2 separate regions of the Homo sapiens genome follow, and region 1 is linked to region 2. The links come from fine-mapping of genetic effects on gene expression. Tissue or cell type: uterus. Region 2 holds a variant in brackets; the other region holds the start of a gene. All regions are shown on one strand. Distances are between the middles of the regions.

Region 1 (8,086 bases), 910 kb after region 2:
TTAGTCCAAGCCCTTCTTCTCTGCTCTTCTCCCTCTATAATCTTTCTATAGTCAACCTCATCATCTCCAATTGGATATTCAATACCAAATGTGTCTGAAGCTAACCTCCTGATTTTCCCCTGAAACCTGCTCTTCCTTTAGTTTTCATCATTTCAGTGAATGGGGCCTCTGTCCTTCTAGTCCTCAGAATAGGACCCTGGTGTCATCTTCGACTCCTTTCTTCCTCTCACTTCCCACAGCCAAGTCTTCGCAAATCCTGCCAGCACCACCTTCAAAATACTGTCGAGCAACAAGCTGACCACTTCTCACCACCTCTCCCCCAAGGTGCATCTCAGCCCAAGCCTCCTAATTGGACTCTGTTTCTCCCGCTTCCTCTCCACAATCTATTCTCAACCCAGCAGCCAAAGTCATATTTTAAAATCTAAGTCACAACATGTCACTGCCCTTCTCCAATGGCTCTCCTCATTCACAGTAAAAGCCAAAGTTCTTTCATGGCTGAGAAAGTCCTACAAGATTTGTCCCCAATGCCAGGCATAGCTTGCTGACCTCCTTTCCTAATCACCCTCCTCTCATTGTGCCCCTGGCACACGGGCTTCCCACTGTTCCTCCACCATGCCCAGTGTGGTCCCACCTCAGGACCTTTGCACCTGTTGTTCTCTCTGCCTAGAACACTCCTCCCTAACAGAGCCACATGGATTACCCCTTCATTTCCTTCAAATCTCTACTCAAATGGTACCTAATTAGTATGGATTTCACAGAGAAGTCTACATAAAAAAGCAACCCCATTCCAACTCTTATATTCCCCATACACAGAGGGCCCTGGCATTAATATTTTTAGACCAACCCATTTCTTGGAAAATCAGACTTCTCAACCCTTCTTAGATATTTTAATCAAGAACTGTCAGGTGGTCATGAGTGCTATAGCTAAAAAGTTTATTATTCATTTGCTATTTATTTTGTCTTCCTCCTTTAGACTATAAGCTTCATGAGGGCAAGGACTTTGTTTTTTTCACGTAGTGCTTGGAATGAATGCATCTCCTCCATGCCTTTTTTTTGCTTTGTTTTTTTTTTTTTTTGAGACCAAGTCTCACTTTTGTTGCCCAGGCTGGAGTGCAATGGCATGATCTTGGCTCACTGCAACCTCTGCCTCCTGGGTTCAAGCAATTCTCCTATCTCAACCTCCTGAGTAGCTGGGACTACAGGTGCCCACCACCACGCCCAGCTAATTTATGTATTTTTAGTAGAGATGGAGTTTCACCATATTGGTCAGGCTGGTCTTGCCTGACCTCAGGTGATCCACCAGCCTTGGCCTCTCAAAGTGCTGGGATTACAAGCGTGAGCCACCAGGCCCAGCCTGATGCCCTAGTTTTAATGACCACTTATAACAAATGACTCCCAAGTTTTAATATTGTTAGCACCAACCTTTACTCTGATGTCCATGACAACTCTTCTTGGTTGTTTAAAGGCATCTGAAACTCAACAGGTACAAAGCTGAACTCATGATCTTCCTCTCCAAGTCTAGGCCTCTTTTCATAGTCTCTCCATTAATTGTCAACACTGCCATTCAATAAATATTTATTGAACACCAACTCTGTGCCAGGCACAGGAGACAGAGCTGTGACCAAAACAGACACTCTCATGGAGTGGACATTTTAGTGGATCCTCCATTCCTTTGGGCAAGCCAGACATCAAGTTAGCTTTAATACCCCTCTTCCTCATCGTGATCCTCCCCATGACTAATCCAGCACCAAGTCGGGTGGATTTTTACCTTCTAAATATGGCTTGACCCATTCCTTTCCTATCTCCACTACCAACACTCCACTCTAGCCCCTATTATCCGTCTCTCATCAGAATGAAGATAACAATCTCCTAACTTAACCAGAATCCACTCTACCCCTCCCAATGCATTCTCCATACTGCAATTCTGATTAATCCCTCCCATGGTCACCACCGCTACCTGGTTGTAAATGCTCAGTGGTTTTCCACTGCTCTTTTACTCTCCCAACTCCAGCCATCATGGCCTTTTCCCATCTTTGTACTTACCATGCCCCTCTTGCCACAGATTCTTTGCACACTCTGTTGTCTGTTCTTGGAAAACTTTCTCCTCCTCACCTACTTAACTTATACTCATTCTTCACATTTCAGCTGTAGTGTAACTTCTTCAAGGAAGCCTTTTCTGATATCAGTCAAACTTTCTGTTAATGAGCTCTCCTAGAGCCACAAATCTCCCCTTCTTAAGCTTCTCACAGTAGCACATTTACATTTACATGTGGGGTTATCTGGTTAATGTCTTCCTCCCCCTAGGCTGCAATCTCCCGGAGAGAAAGGACACATCTGTTGCATTCATCGTTAATCCCAGGGTGTAGAACAGTGCCTGACACATAGTAGAAGAGCAGTAAGCATTTGTCAAGTGGATGAATGAATGAATAGCTGGAAAGAGGATCTAGTAAAGTAATGCACGTAAAGCTCCTAGTATAGTAATCCATACATACTAAGTCTTAATTACCATTAATTATCTTACCCCCTCCACCCAGGGAATTCCCAGAACTTGGGAAGGGAAAGTGGCAGGAGTTAGCATCAATGTCTCACAGTGTAATCATGTCACTGCCATCTGTTTCCTTTCGTTCTATATTCAAAAGGCTATAAATGATTTAGACAAATCCTAGCATACTCTGACCCTCCTCCAAAACCAACAGGCAGATGTTGAGGGAGGAAGGTGAGTGGGCCTTAGGCGATCTTATTTTTCCTCTCCTCATAAGGTGGGGGAAGGCCTGGGAACTGAGTGTGTGGCACCTGAGGCTGTATCTTAAGAGTTTGCATGGTAATCCTAGAGAACCACAGATAGCATCCAAGCCAGATGCCAGTCAGAGAGACCCCCGTCCCGGACTCTCTAATTGATGTCCCAGAGCCTTGGGAGGAGGACATGGTTATCATGCTCAGGTTTAACATCCCGAGTGTCTTCTTCATGGCTGCAAGGTGCAAGCACACAGCTAGTATATGCAACTCCAGTGGGAATGAGACTGGATTCCAAATCAGTGGGAAGACAGAGAATAATGGAAACGTAGGAAAGAGGTAGGAAGAGAAAAATAGGGGCATGTCAAGGCGTCGCTGTAGTGCGCATGACAGCAAGGGACAAAAACAAAAACAGAGATGAGAGAACTCCAGACTTGACCCTCCAAGGGCCTGGACAGGCCATCAGGCCGGGCAGTCTCCATCCCCTGACCTCCTCAGCCTGCACTGATTGGGAGGGGCCTCCTCCCTCCCGCCACCGTGGGAAGAGAGAACATGATTCCCTGCAGATCTGAGCAAAGTGCCACAGCCTCCCAGGATGCTCAGCCCTGCCCTGAGAGCTGGGGTGGGTAGGAGGATGGCAGAGAGCGGTCAAGAGCAGTTATTGCCACAGGACACCGGGGGAAGAAGGCGCTGGAGAGAAGGATGGAAGCAGGCAGGACAAGTTCGGAAGGTCAGATGGGATAAAGGCGTCTTTGGTAGGTAGTTCCCGCTTGCCTTTGACCTCTGTTGAGTCTACAAACAGGTATTATGTGCCAACTCTATTTTGGTTAGGGAGACAGGTATGGGTGTGCCTGGGAGGCTCAGGCTACTGGGTGGAATTCAGAAATACCGCGGGGGACAGTCCTCAGCCCCAAACTCAGCCCACTCCTTCCTCGCAAGCTCCCTGGGCCCAAAGCTTGCCGGGCCTCAGTTTCTCCTCCGAGAAAGGGGAGGGCGAGGCTGGCAGTACCTGGCGGCGTCGGGTGGAAGGCAGGGGGCGCACTTGATGGCGTACTCCGTCCGCCAGCGCCTGTGCCGCGCCTGGAACACCTGGCTGAAGCCGCCGCTGGCCACTAGGCGCCAGTCGCCCTCGAAGTCGTCGCGGGTGAAGACGGGGAGGCTGCCCAGCCGCAGCTCGGTGGGGTCGGCAGCCATTGCCCCTCTCTTCCTGTCCCCGCGCCGCGCACTCCCCGCTGTGGCTGCTGCCTGGGTGGCCGAAGGAGCCGCCGCTTCCTGCTCCTCGGGTCCGGGAGAGGGGAATGGGGAGACGAGCCGGCCCTGCCTCCTTCCCCGCCCAAGAGGAGCCGCTCCTGCCCCGCAAAGGTGGGGAAATCCCAGACATGAGCCCTGAGGCCCCAGCAGGGATGGAGCGACCTGGGCCTGGGGAAGAGGGTATGTCCCTCCGAAGCCCTCGCATTTCCCCTGTCTCAGCCTTTGATTTTCCCCAGTTCCCCCTAGGGAGGGATGCTGGGAGAAGGTGTCCCGAAGCTGGAAGAAGTCCAGCCTGAGAAGTTGGATCCAGTTTATTTAGGCCCAGCGCTAAGTGAAATCGGTTTATGCATTCCTTCAGTGCATTCAAGGTTTTATGGTTTATGAAGGATTCAGGCCTGGACCCCTGCCCCTATCCAGCAAGTATGGGGCTCAAACAATTTTAATGGGGATTTTCTGGTCTGAATCTGTTGGTCTGACTGGTTTCATGTTTCCTTTGTTCTTGTTGGGGTTTTGTTTGTTTGTTTGTTAGCCAGCCTTGGTGTGCTATAGGTTACCAAGGAGGGGTCAGCAGGGACAGAGTTGCGGGGGAGGCTGGGCTCCTGTCTGCAGGGGACTCCCTTCCTGGGCTGCGCTCTATCCAACCTCAGAGGGATGGACCCCAGCCTCGGGGTGGCCACGGGGGAGGTGGCCTCCTTGGCGCAGTTACTAGGGGCAGTTTGTTGCCAGGGATGAGAGGAGGCTCTAGCTGGAGCCTGACCAGTGCTGAGCTTGGAGGTTCCCCTGGGTCCTGGGTCCATGGGATTGCCCTCTCACCTTGGAGACCCTCAGAGCAGGGAAAATGACAAGTGCTTGAACAGACAGGTCTCCCCAGGGGCACTGACCAAGTGGGCCATTGCCCAGAGACAGGCATACCTGGAGGAACTGTGGCCACGGAGTGCAGAGTCAGCCACTATTTGCCTACAGCTGAGTAAGTCCACAAGGAGCCCTCAGAGTGATCACTGTTAGGTTTGAGGAGCCTACCTACCAGACAAGGAAGTGCCTTGCCTTCAGCCCAAACCTGCAGAGCCCCTCGTCCATGCCACAAGCCCACCAGACTCCCAGGGAACAGTGTAGGCATGATAGGCAAACAGAGACTCCCTGTGGAAGCTGGAGAACTTGCTCCCTCTGTAACAACTTACCTGCAACTTCCAGGATGAATTCTGGCAAGCAGATTAAGGATCAAAGATTGGGCCTGGAGACAGTTGTCATAGAAACTAGTGATAGCCACTACTAATTGAACACTCACTTTGTTCCAGGATCAGTGACTATTTCAGTTACTGCATTGCTTTACATATATTATCCTGTTTATCTTGCAACAATGTTATGAGGTCAACATCTTCTATTCACAGATGAGGAAACTGGCTTCAAGACAATAAGTAATCAATGGACACATAGCTAGTAAGTGGTAGTTGATATTCAAACTCAAGTCTCTTAGTTTCTATGGAAATGGTTGGCCAGGGGAGGATCAGGGAGTAGCCTTTTATGAATACAAAAAAGGAAGAGAGAGAGTCATGCTCCCTGGAAGAGGGTGGAGATGATGGAAACTGCATCAGGAGCAGGACGTATCCCCCAAACATATGTCAGAGGGAGGCCCCCAGCTTGCTTTGGCTGGAGCAAGACAGGGCATAACAGAACCCATTGTCTCTGGAGTAGCCCTGCCTGCCCAAGTTTAAAGCCTCTGCCAGAGAAGTTTGGAAGGTGATAAAGGACATTGTCATCAGGGAGACCAGGAGGTCAAGAGGATGTTTCATACCTTCTACTGGGAGGGTGAACATGGAGACTGGGAAGGTGACCAGCCACCCAGCTCTGCGGAAGTTTGACTGAGGCCCGATCTTTGACATTCAGCGAGACCTATCTCAGCTCCTGGAGGAAATACCAAGGGTGAATGGCCTGAGTCATTTCAGCAGTTCCCCTTGATCCACTTATACCTGAAGTGGCTCTCCAGGGAGAGGAAGTAACCAGAAGCTGCCATTGTCTGCCTGCAGAGACTGTCACAGGAATACTGAAGAAAGCATCATTCCTAGAAGAGGGGACACCCAGGGCTCAAGGCATGTTGCCAGAATCCCGAACAAAATACCTCTGAATTTCTCACAGGGGTGGAGGTGGAGGAACTGCAGGGTCAGGGCGTATTACTGCTGACCCACCTGTTGAAACTCTCTGCTGTGGGTTCAAGCACCCCTGAGGCTTCTGAGGAGTCAGTCAAAATAGATACATTCATTGACCCAGAGGGACTGGATCATTTGACTGGGCTTGTCCTGCTCCTTACAGCTGTCTAACATGGGCTAGGGCAAAGGCCTAGTAGTCTTTGGATAAGCTCTGGGAGAAGTTGTAAGTGGAGGGACCCTTTCTGAGTATAAGGTCACAGAGGCAAAGAACTCCTGGATCTCTCATTAAAAGTGGGGTGAGGTATAGGGATTTGCAAAAGAGTAAAGTCAACTCAGAGGCTGCTGGTTTCTTTCCAGTGGTCTGAGTGCAGAAGTCCCTAGGTCCTGGCTGGTTGGGAAGTCAGCAGCCAGTGTGTGGAGGGGAGAGAGCTGGGGGGTTGGGAGGGAAACTCTACCTTTACCCATATCTACCTACAAATGGGAATGGATAATGAAGTGGTTATAGTCCAATTATGACCCCCACCCACCAGAAGGGGCAAGGAACAGGTTCTAGCTATAGAAGTTTTACCCCAAAATGCTCTGAGTCCTTCCAACTAACCTCTATCAGTGCATTTTGTTTGGGCAGATTGAAGATGGAAGTGTTCTGGATTTGGAGTTATTAAATGAATTTTGTGTGTATGTGTGATTGTCTTTGGGGAACCTAAGATTTTTAGCCTGCTCCTCCCAGACAAGTGAGCTGGTACAGGAGCTCTGCAATACTTTAGAAGATGCTGAAATCTGATGTGAGCCTTTCCCCAAACCGGAATGACAAGCTATTTGCATATAGGGAAGTTTCCCAGTCTGCCCCTGTTCTCCACCCTGCAAACATGTCACGGAGAACCCTGGACAGGTTCTGGCAGGCCCCAGCCTCTGGTAGCTTGTGTACTGAGGTTGGTCAGGATAAAGGAATGTATGCAGGAAAGTGGAACATCTGTTCAGGAAGCAGGACTCCCAGAGTGAAAGGGATTGAATGAGGCAATAGGAACAGGGTTTAAATGTGGGAGTGAGTCAGTCAGTCAGACCCGCATTTAAACCCTGGCTTCTTTCTATCACTTAGCATTTGTTTAACCTTGGTCACATTATCAAATCTTTCTGGGTTTCTCCATCTGTAAAATAGATGATAATCATAATAACCATTCCAAAACATTGCTATAAGAATTATAACCTTTAAAAATATACCTAGTATATTAGTATAATATTATACTAATATAACATAAAAATACAATATAATATCATATTAGTTTAATATACCTAGGATATTTTTAAAGGTTATAATTCTTACAGCAACCTTTTGGAATGGTTATTATGATTATCATCCATAAAATATATCTAAATACTAGGTATATTTTTAAAGGTTACATTCCTTAGGTATATACTAGGAATACTCCTAGGCAAAAAATATGAACCAGCTGATACTTCACACCTGAAAAATTAACTCAAAATGAATCATGGACTTAAATATTAAATGTAAACTTATAAAAATTTTAGGAAAAAAAAAGGAGAAAATATTCTGGACCTAGGATTAGATGAAAAGTTCTTAGGCCGAATCCCACAGGCACAATCCATAAAAGGGAAAATTGATAAACTGAACCTCATCAAAATGAAAAACTCTCACTCAGTGAAAGACCTGGTGAAGGTGAAGAGAAGAGTGCAGATGGGGAGAAAATGTTTGTAAAGCACATATTTGACAAAGTGCTGGTTCATAGAGTATATAAGGAGGTCTTCAAACTCAATGCTAAAAAAGCATCAAATTAGAAAATGGGAAAATACATTTCTCTGAAGAGAATATACAGATGACAAATAAGTTCTTGAAAAAATGTTTAATATCATGAGCCACTAAGCAATGCAAGTAAGATATCACTAACTACCTATCAGAATGGCTAAAAATAAAACTGAAAAGATAGTGGCAACGCCAAATG
Region 2 (8,086 bases):
ATGCTCATCATCACTGGTCATCAGAGAAATGCAAATCAAAACCACAATGAGACACCATCTCACACCACTTAGAATGGTGATCATTAAAAAGTCAGGAAACAACAGGTGCTGGAGAGGATGTGGAGAAATAGGAACACTTTTACATTGTTGGTGGGACTGTAAACTAGTTCAACCATTGTGGAAGTCAGTGTGGTGATTCCTCAGGGATCTAGAACTAGAAATACCATTTGACCCAGCCATCCCATTACTGGGTATATACCCAAAGGATTATAAATCATGCTGCTATAAAGACACATGCACACATATGTTTATTGTGGCACTATTCACAATAGCAAAGACTTGGAACCAACCCAAATGTCCAACAATGATAGACTGGATTAAGAAAATGTGGCACATATACACCATGGAATACTATGCAGCCATAAAAAATGATGAGTTCATGTCCTTTGTAGGGACATGGATGAAGCTGGAAACCATCATTCTGAGCAAACTATCTCAAGGACAGAAAACCAAACACCACACGTTCTCACTCATAGGTGGGAATTGAACAATGAGAACACTTGGATACAGGGTGGGGAACATCACACACCGGGGCCTGTCGTGGGGTGGGGGGAGGGGGCATGGATAGCATTAGGAGATATACCTAATGTAAATGACGAGTTAATGGGTGCAGCACACCAACATGGCACATGTATACATAAGTAACAAACCTGCACGTTGTGCACATGTACCCTAGAACTTAAAGTATAATAAAAAATTAAAAAAAAAAAAGGAGGAGCCACTCTCTACAGAGGCAACCAGGAGGTGGTCCATGCCCCACCTGCTGTCAAGAGGGCCAAGGAAAACAGCTTGGACAGCATGCCTGCAACTGATTCCCACCCACCTGTGTGTGTGCCCTGGCACACCTAGAGGGAAGCCCTGCTCCAGACACCAGTGCTTCTTCTACTGTAATGTGCATACCACCCTTAGCAGATCTTACAGTGAAGGTTCTGATTCTGTAGGTAGCTAGTGGGGCCTGACAGCCTGCATTTCTAAAAGCTCCCACGTGTTGTCAAACTACTAGTCCAGGGACCACAAGCCTAAGCTATGCATTCCAAGTTCCAGGAACCATAGGTTAAGTAATGCAGCTTCTACAATTTCTTAAGGAAAGAGCTCATTTTCCTCTGTTCATTGTATAAGCTTGAGTAATTGTATCTTAGTGTTTGACTTTCTTAAAACTTTTTTGGATAGTTGTAAAAATGAGGGTTATTTATTTTTATTATTATTTTTTATTATTTTTGAGACAGAGTGTCACTCTGCCAGCCAGTCTGGAATGTGACCACAGCTCACTGCAGCCTCGATCTCCCAAGCTCAAGTGATCCTCTCTCCTCAGCCTCCCCAGTAGCTGGGAATACGGGTGTGCACCACTATGGCCAGCTAATTTAAAATGAGTGGTATTTAAATGCAGAGGTAGAAGAACAGGAGACAGTACATACGTCTTTGGCAGCCTTTAGCACAAGAAAAAACTTCAGATAAAGAAGAAATCATCTTGAAGGAAATAGGTTGTAGGTTGATAAAGCTACTTGAAGATGCAGGAAAGACATGAGTTGCATAGGATCATTATCATTCTTAAAATAATTAAAGCCACAGGATCTAGCACAAGGATAAGGATAAGAATGCAGAAATTTACTGCCAAAAATGCAATGTCCAACAGAGTGATTGGGAGGGGACAGTGTCTCAAGAGCTAGTTGTTCCAAGCTGACATTTCAGGTGTGAGATAAGTAATGCTTTTACTATCCTGCTAGATTGTAAGGGTTTATTTTTGAATGAGATGGAAAGGCCGGTGGTGGATACAGAAAGTGAGAACAAAGTTTCAAAGGCCTTCTTGACAGATGATTTGGACTTTGGCAAGGTGTGTTGTCTAACAGTGACTGAAGATTTATTTACTTATTACAAAGTTTCCCTGAGATTCTACAAACCCTGGGAATTTCCTTATTTACTAAATAACTTTAGATATTGTCCAAATTGTCATAGCTGCAATTGTTTCTAGTTAATATCAATTTCATTCTGTAGAATCACATAGTCAACAGAAAAAAAAGGTGTATGAAATTATTTTTATATTGAAGAATATAGCCCCACTTTGAAGGCTATAGCCAATATAAAATTCTAAGTCAGGGGTATACAGGTTAAAATGCATATGAAAATAGGCTCTCACCGGCCTGGGCAACAGAGCAAAACTCCCATCTCTACAAAAAATTAGCCAGCTATGGCAGTGTGGACCTGTAGTCCCAGCTACTCAGGAGGCTAAGGTGGGAAATCACCTGAGCCCAGGAGGTCAAGGCTACAGTGAGATCTCACCACTGCACCCCAGTGTGGGTGACAGAGCAAGACCCTGTCTAAAAAAAATAGAATAGCCTCTCTCAACTTCTTACTACATGTCAGAAAAAAAGTGGGGCAATATTTAAACAATTTTATGATTTTGTTCATGTGTAAGAGTGACAAAATACATTCTCATATATGCATGGACTTAGAAAACACGTCACTGTATGTTCCTCTTGAAATAAATATTTGAAGATCTATTCAGTTGACAGATGAACCAAAATTAAAGACTCAATATCTAGAAAAATTGTATAAAATGAGCACCAAATATGTCCAAATAATTCTAAATTTGATTACAAACCAAAAGCAAATGTCCAAACTGATCTTGAAAGAAAATATAAAAATAATACTTTAAATTACAATATTTGAACTTTAAAATCTCAGATTTCAATAATAAATACTGGTAAGAGAGATGCCAGGGGACTTTGGTTATCAAAAATTGTTAAATTCCTCAAGTTAGCAGGGAGGAAAACAATTACTAACTTTTTACCCGACTTGATAAGTTAAGAGAATTTGTCTCCAGCAGAACTGCATTATAACTAATACTAAAATAAGTTCTTCAGGTGAAGGAAAATGATGCCAAACAGAAGAACAGATCTTGGGAAAGGAATGAAAAACACTAGAGAAGAAAGATATGTGGGTAAATATAAAAGATCTTAAATATATGCATAATATAGCCTTAGTTAGTTTGGGCTCCTGTAACAGAATACCATAGACTGGGTGGCTCATAAACAACAGAAATTTATTTCCTACAATTCTAAAGGCTGGAAGTCTGAGATTAGGATGCCAGCCTGGTCAGGGTCTGATGAGGACTCTTCTGGGCCACAGACAGCTGACTTCTCATTGTACCTTTATATGGCAGAAGGAGAGCTAGAGAGCTCTATGGGGTTCCTTTTATAAGGGCACTAATCCCATTCATGAAGTCTCCACCTCCATGACCTAATGACCTTTCAAAGCCCCGACCTCTTAATACCATCATAAGGGGGTTAGGATTTCAACACAGAAATTGGGAGGGAGGGATAAAAACATTCAGTCCAAAATTCCTATGTTTAATATATATTGTTATATACATTGTTTAAAACTGTATACTGACTTATGTGACTATACTTAACACTATTCAACTAACACTTAAACATAGTAAAGATGGTAAATTTTATTTTAAAAATCAAAATTAAAAATAAGACAATAAAAATAAATAAAATCACTACTAACTAAAGCAAAACTAATAACAATATATGTATTATAGTGTTATACATAGAAATAAAATACATGACAAGAACATAAGGGCCAGGAAAGTCGGTTAAGGAAATTACACTTTTGGAATATCTTACATCCTTCATGAGACAATAGATATGTCAAGGATGCATATTGCAATTCCTAGAAAAACCACACAAACTCACACAAGACACAGAAGAGGTTAACAGGGGAGATAAAAAATAAATACTAAAAATATGTACACTTATACTAAATGGAATACTAAAAATTACTGCATTCACCAAGGGAAAACAGGAAGAAAGACACAGGTGAACAACAATCAGATGGGACAGATAGAAATCATATACCAAGATGGTAGATTTAAATTCAACCCTGTAATATTAGTAATTACATTAAATGTAAATGGACTAAACAATCCAGTTAGAGGCAGAAATTGTCAGTCTGGATTAAAAAGAGAAAACATAATCTGAAAACAGAAGGGTAGAAAAAGATATGTAGATATATCATGTATATTAGTTATATGTAACTGCAGGATAAATTATCCCCAAAATTTAGCAGCTAAAAATGACAAACACTTATTTCTCTGTTTTTTCTGGTTCAACTGGGGGAAATTTGGTTCCAAGCTCACT[C/T]CCCAGGACAAGAGAGTGAGATAGAGACAGAATACCCAATAAAAAGCTGTCATTTTTTAAAAATTGATTTTGTTTTTTACAGCAATATTAGGTTCACCGCAAAATCAAGCAGAAGGCCTACATTGGCATACCATTATCACCCAAAGTCTGTAATCTACGTTAAGATTCACTCTTGGTATTGTACATTCCATGGATTTGGACAAATATATAATGACATGTGTCCACCATTATAGTACTGTACAGAGTAGTCTCACTGCTCTAAAAAATCCTCTATACTCCACCTATTTATCTCTCCCTCCCCGACCCCTAGCAACCACTTATCTTCTTTACTTCTTCCCTAGTTTTGCATTTTCCAGAATGTCATATAGTTGGAATCATACATGTAGCCTTTTAAGATTGGCTTCTTTCAATTAGTAATTGTATTTACATTTCCTCCATGTCTTTTCGTGGCTTGATAGCTCATTTCTTTTTAGCACTGGATATTATTCCATTGTCTAAATGTACCACAGTTTATTTATTCATTCGCTTACTGAAAGACATCTTGGTTGCTTCCAATTTTTGGCAATTATGAATATAGCTACTATAAACATCTGTGTGCAGCTTTTTGTGTAGACATACCACAGCTTTTTGGGTTACATACTGAGGAGTGTAATACATGCAGCTTTCTGGGTTACATACCAAGGAGTGCAACTGCTAGATTGAATAGTTTTGCAAGGAATAGTCGAATTGTCTTCCAAAATGGCTACACCATTTTTAATTCCCACGAACAATAAATAAGAGTTCCTCTTTCCCCACAGCCTCATCAGCATTTGGTGTTGTCAGTCTTCCAGATTCTGGCCTAGATCTAATAGGTGTGTAGTGGTGCTGTAGTCCTTTTAATTTAATATCACAATTGATATCCCATCACTATGCTGCATTCTACCAAACTTGTCAGTACTGAATCACTAAATCCAGTGGATATTCTAGGGAAGGGGATTACACAAAGGTGAAAATACTGACACAAGGATTATTGGGGGCCATCTTAGAGGCTGCCCACCACACCATGCAAAACAGCAAGCATAGGAAGGGTGATGTAGCTATATTAACATCAGAAAAAGTAGACTTCAAGACAAATACATTGCTGGAAATAAAGGGAGATATTTCACAATGGTAAAGTGGTCAGTTCATCAAGAAGACATAACAATCCTAAAAATGTATATAACAGAGCTAAAAACAAGTGTCAAAATGCATATAGCAAATGTTGACAGAACTATAGGGAGCAAAGGATAAATCAACAATCATAGTTTGAGACATTAACACTCTCAGTAATTGACAGAGAAAGTAAACAAAACGTCAGTAAGGATGTAGAAAATTTGAATGATACTATCAACCTGCCTGACTTAATTGATATTTATAGAAACTATATCTACAACTGAACAATATACACTCTTTTCAATGTAGAAAGCACATAGAACGTTTACTGAGATAGACCATATGCAGAGCCACAAAATAAATCTCTGACTACAACAAAATTTAATTTGAAAGCAATAACAATAAGATAGCTAGAAAAATCCCAATACTTTGGAAATTAAGCAACATAATTCTAAATAATTCATGGTCAAAAAAGAAATTACAAAGGAAATGAGACAATATGCTGAATTTGAAAATAATAAAAATACCACATACAAGAATCATGGGATGCAGTTAAAACAGTGCTAAAGGAAATTTGCAGCATTAAATGCCTACATTAGAAAAAGAGATATGTGAAATAAATGATATAAGTTTCCAACTTAAGAAGCTAAAAGAAGAATTAAAAACAAGACATTTTAGAAAGCTAGAAAAAAATAAAGTAAACTAGAAAAGAATTAAAATTAAAATAACTAGAAGAAAGAAAGTGATCAAAAATAAGAGCAGAAAGCAATGAAATAGAAAATGGACAGACAATAGAGAAAAATCAACATAGCCAAAAGTTGGTTTTTGGAAAAGATTAATAAAATGATCAATCTGTAGCAAGGTTGATCAAGACAACAGAAAGAAAACAAGACAAATTACCAATATCAAGAATGAAAGAGGAGAGATCACTACAGATCCTACAGACATAATAAGGTATTAAAAGGATATTGTAAAAAAAAAAAAATGCCAATAAAGTTGACAACCAAGATAAAAAGGACAAACTTCTTGAAAAGTACCACTTACCAAAACAGACAAAAGAACAAACGGAAAATCCAAGTAACCATTAAAGAAATACTGTTTTTAATAAAGTCTTCTCTCGCACAAAAATTTCAGATTCACCTGGCTTCGCTGGTAAATGCTATCAATCATTTAAGAAGGAAATTATACTAATAATACTCAAACTCTTTCAGAAAATAGAAGAGGGGATATCACTCCCAACTCATTTTATGACTCCAGCCAGCATCATGCTGATATCAAAATTTGTGAAGCACACTAGAAGAAAATTATAGCTCAATTATACTTCATGACCAAGTAGTTTATGCCACTTTGGTGTAACATTCAAAATTTTCCAATGTAATTCACATTTTCAGAATACAGGAGGAAAATCATAAGACCATCTTAATAAATGCAAACAAATTTTGACAAAATTCAACATTTGATTAAAATTTCAAAAAAGCTAGGAATGCAGAACTTAGTCTGATAAATAATATCTATGAAAAACCAATAGTTAATATACTTAATGATAAATCATTGAACATTTTTTATCCTAGAATATGGAATAAGGCACAGAGGTCTGCTGTCATCATTTCTATTCAATATTGTATTGAAAGTTTTTGCCAACATAATAAGGGCAGAAAAATAAATAAAAAGCATAAAGTTGGAATAGAAGAACAAAACCTATTTTTATTTGCAGATACTATAATTGCAAACATTCATCTTTTTATGCAGCTTGCAAAGAAGTCTGTGGGGTCTCAGCAATATGCATAGCAGCAGAGAAATGTTGCTCCAGGAGTGAATGGTCAGTTGGGGAACAGACTGGATATTGTCAGACAATCAGCAGAAGATGGAAGTGCATAAGGATATGAGAAAGACAGTGAATTGCAGGCGTGGCTACCTCTGGCTAATAGGCTATTGCCAATTTCTCGTGTTGGAAGAAATTAAAATTTACATGAACAAATGAGATTCATTTGCATAAATTTACATGTAGATGTGGTAGTGTAAGATCTTGACCATTAGTTGTAAGTATACAAAGTCTACTTTCATGGATGGTGATTAATAAATTCTTTTCAAGTAATTCCTTTATGTTTCTTACCTCAGTTTAAAAACCTAGTCAGATTTTGGTTGTATCTGGTGATGTCAGCATTAGCCACACTCACAGCCAAGTTCTATAGGCTTGGATGGCTACAGCAGCATGGCAGTGAGGCAAGGGACAAGCACTGACATCCAAAAGCTGCTGGTGAGAAGCTGGGTTAGCCTTTTACTTGCAGCTGTCCTAAACCTAGGTCCCAAGGTACTTGACTGCACACTGCTCTTGTCCCCAAAGGCCTGGAAAATTTGGGGGTTTACTCCTCTTTGCTCAGTATCCATTTCTTCAACCCTCTCCCTGTGTCTTCCATTACTCTGGTGCACACATGCACGTGCACATACACAAATTTACTAACATGCACACACATGGGCCTATCTCATCTCTCTTGCTCTCGCTCTCTCGTTACCACTCATTCTCCATTTGGATTTCTCTTTGGTCCCTATCTGTCTGTTGCTTTTGCCAACCATCACTCAGGTACCTTCAAAAGCCAAGAAGTAGACACCAGTTTCTCTACCTGTTCCCTTCAAGATCACACACATAGGTCACCACTGGGGACCAGTCAAAGGCCTCTGGCTCTTTCTTCAGCCACTTCTCCAGCTCCTGCAGGTTCTGGTCTGAGTAGTCAGTGACGACGATCTCCTTAAAG

The links. PIP is the estimated chance that this variant, and not a neighbour inherited with it, causes the effect.
Region 1: ANKK1 starts here. The variant in region 2 is fine-mapped to the expression of ANKK1 in uterus (GTEx, PIP 0.97).

The regions. Positions count from the first base shown.
Region 1 is chr11:113,383,726-113,391,811 of GRCh38, reverse strand. It overlaps ANKK1 (ankyrin repeat and kinase domain containing 1), which reads right to left and starts at 4,033. Exons shown (of 8, transcript NM_178510.2): 1 at 3,743-4,033. The coding sequence starts at 3,927.
Region 2 is chr11:114,298,027-114,306,112 of GRCh38, reverse strand. It overlaps NNMT (nicotinamide N-methyltransferase), which reads right to left. Exons shown (of 3, transcript NM_006169.3): 2 at 7,955-8,086. Among named protein-coding and RNA genes, the nearest start is that of NNMT, 5.7 kb to the right of the region's middle. The variant C/T (reference allele first, on the strand shown) is at 4,203.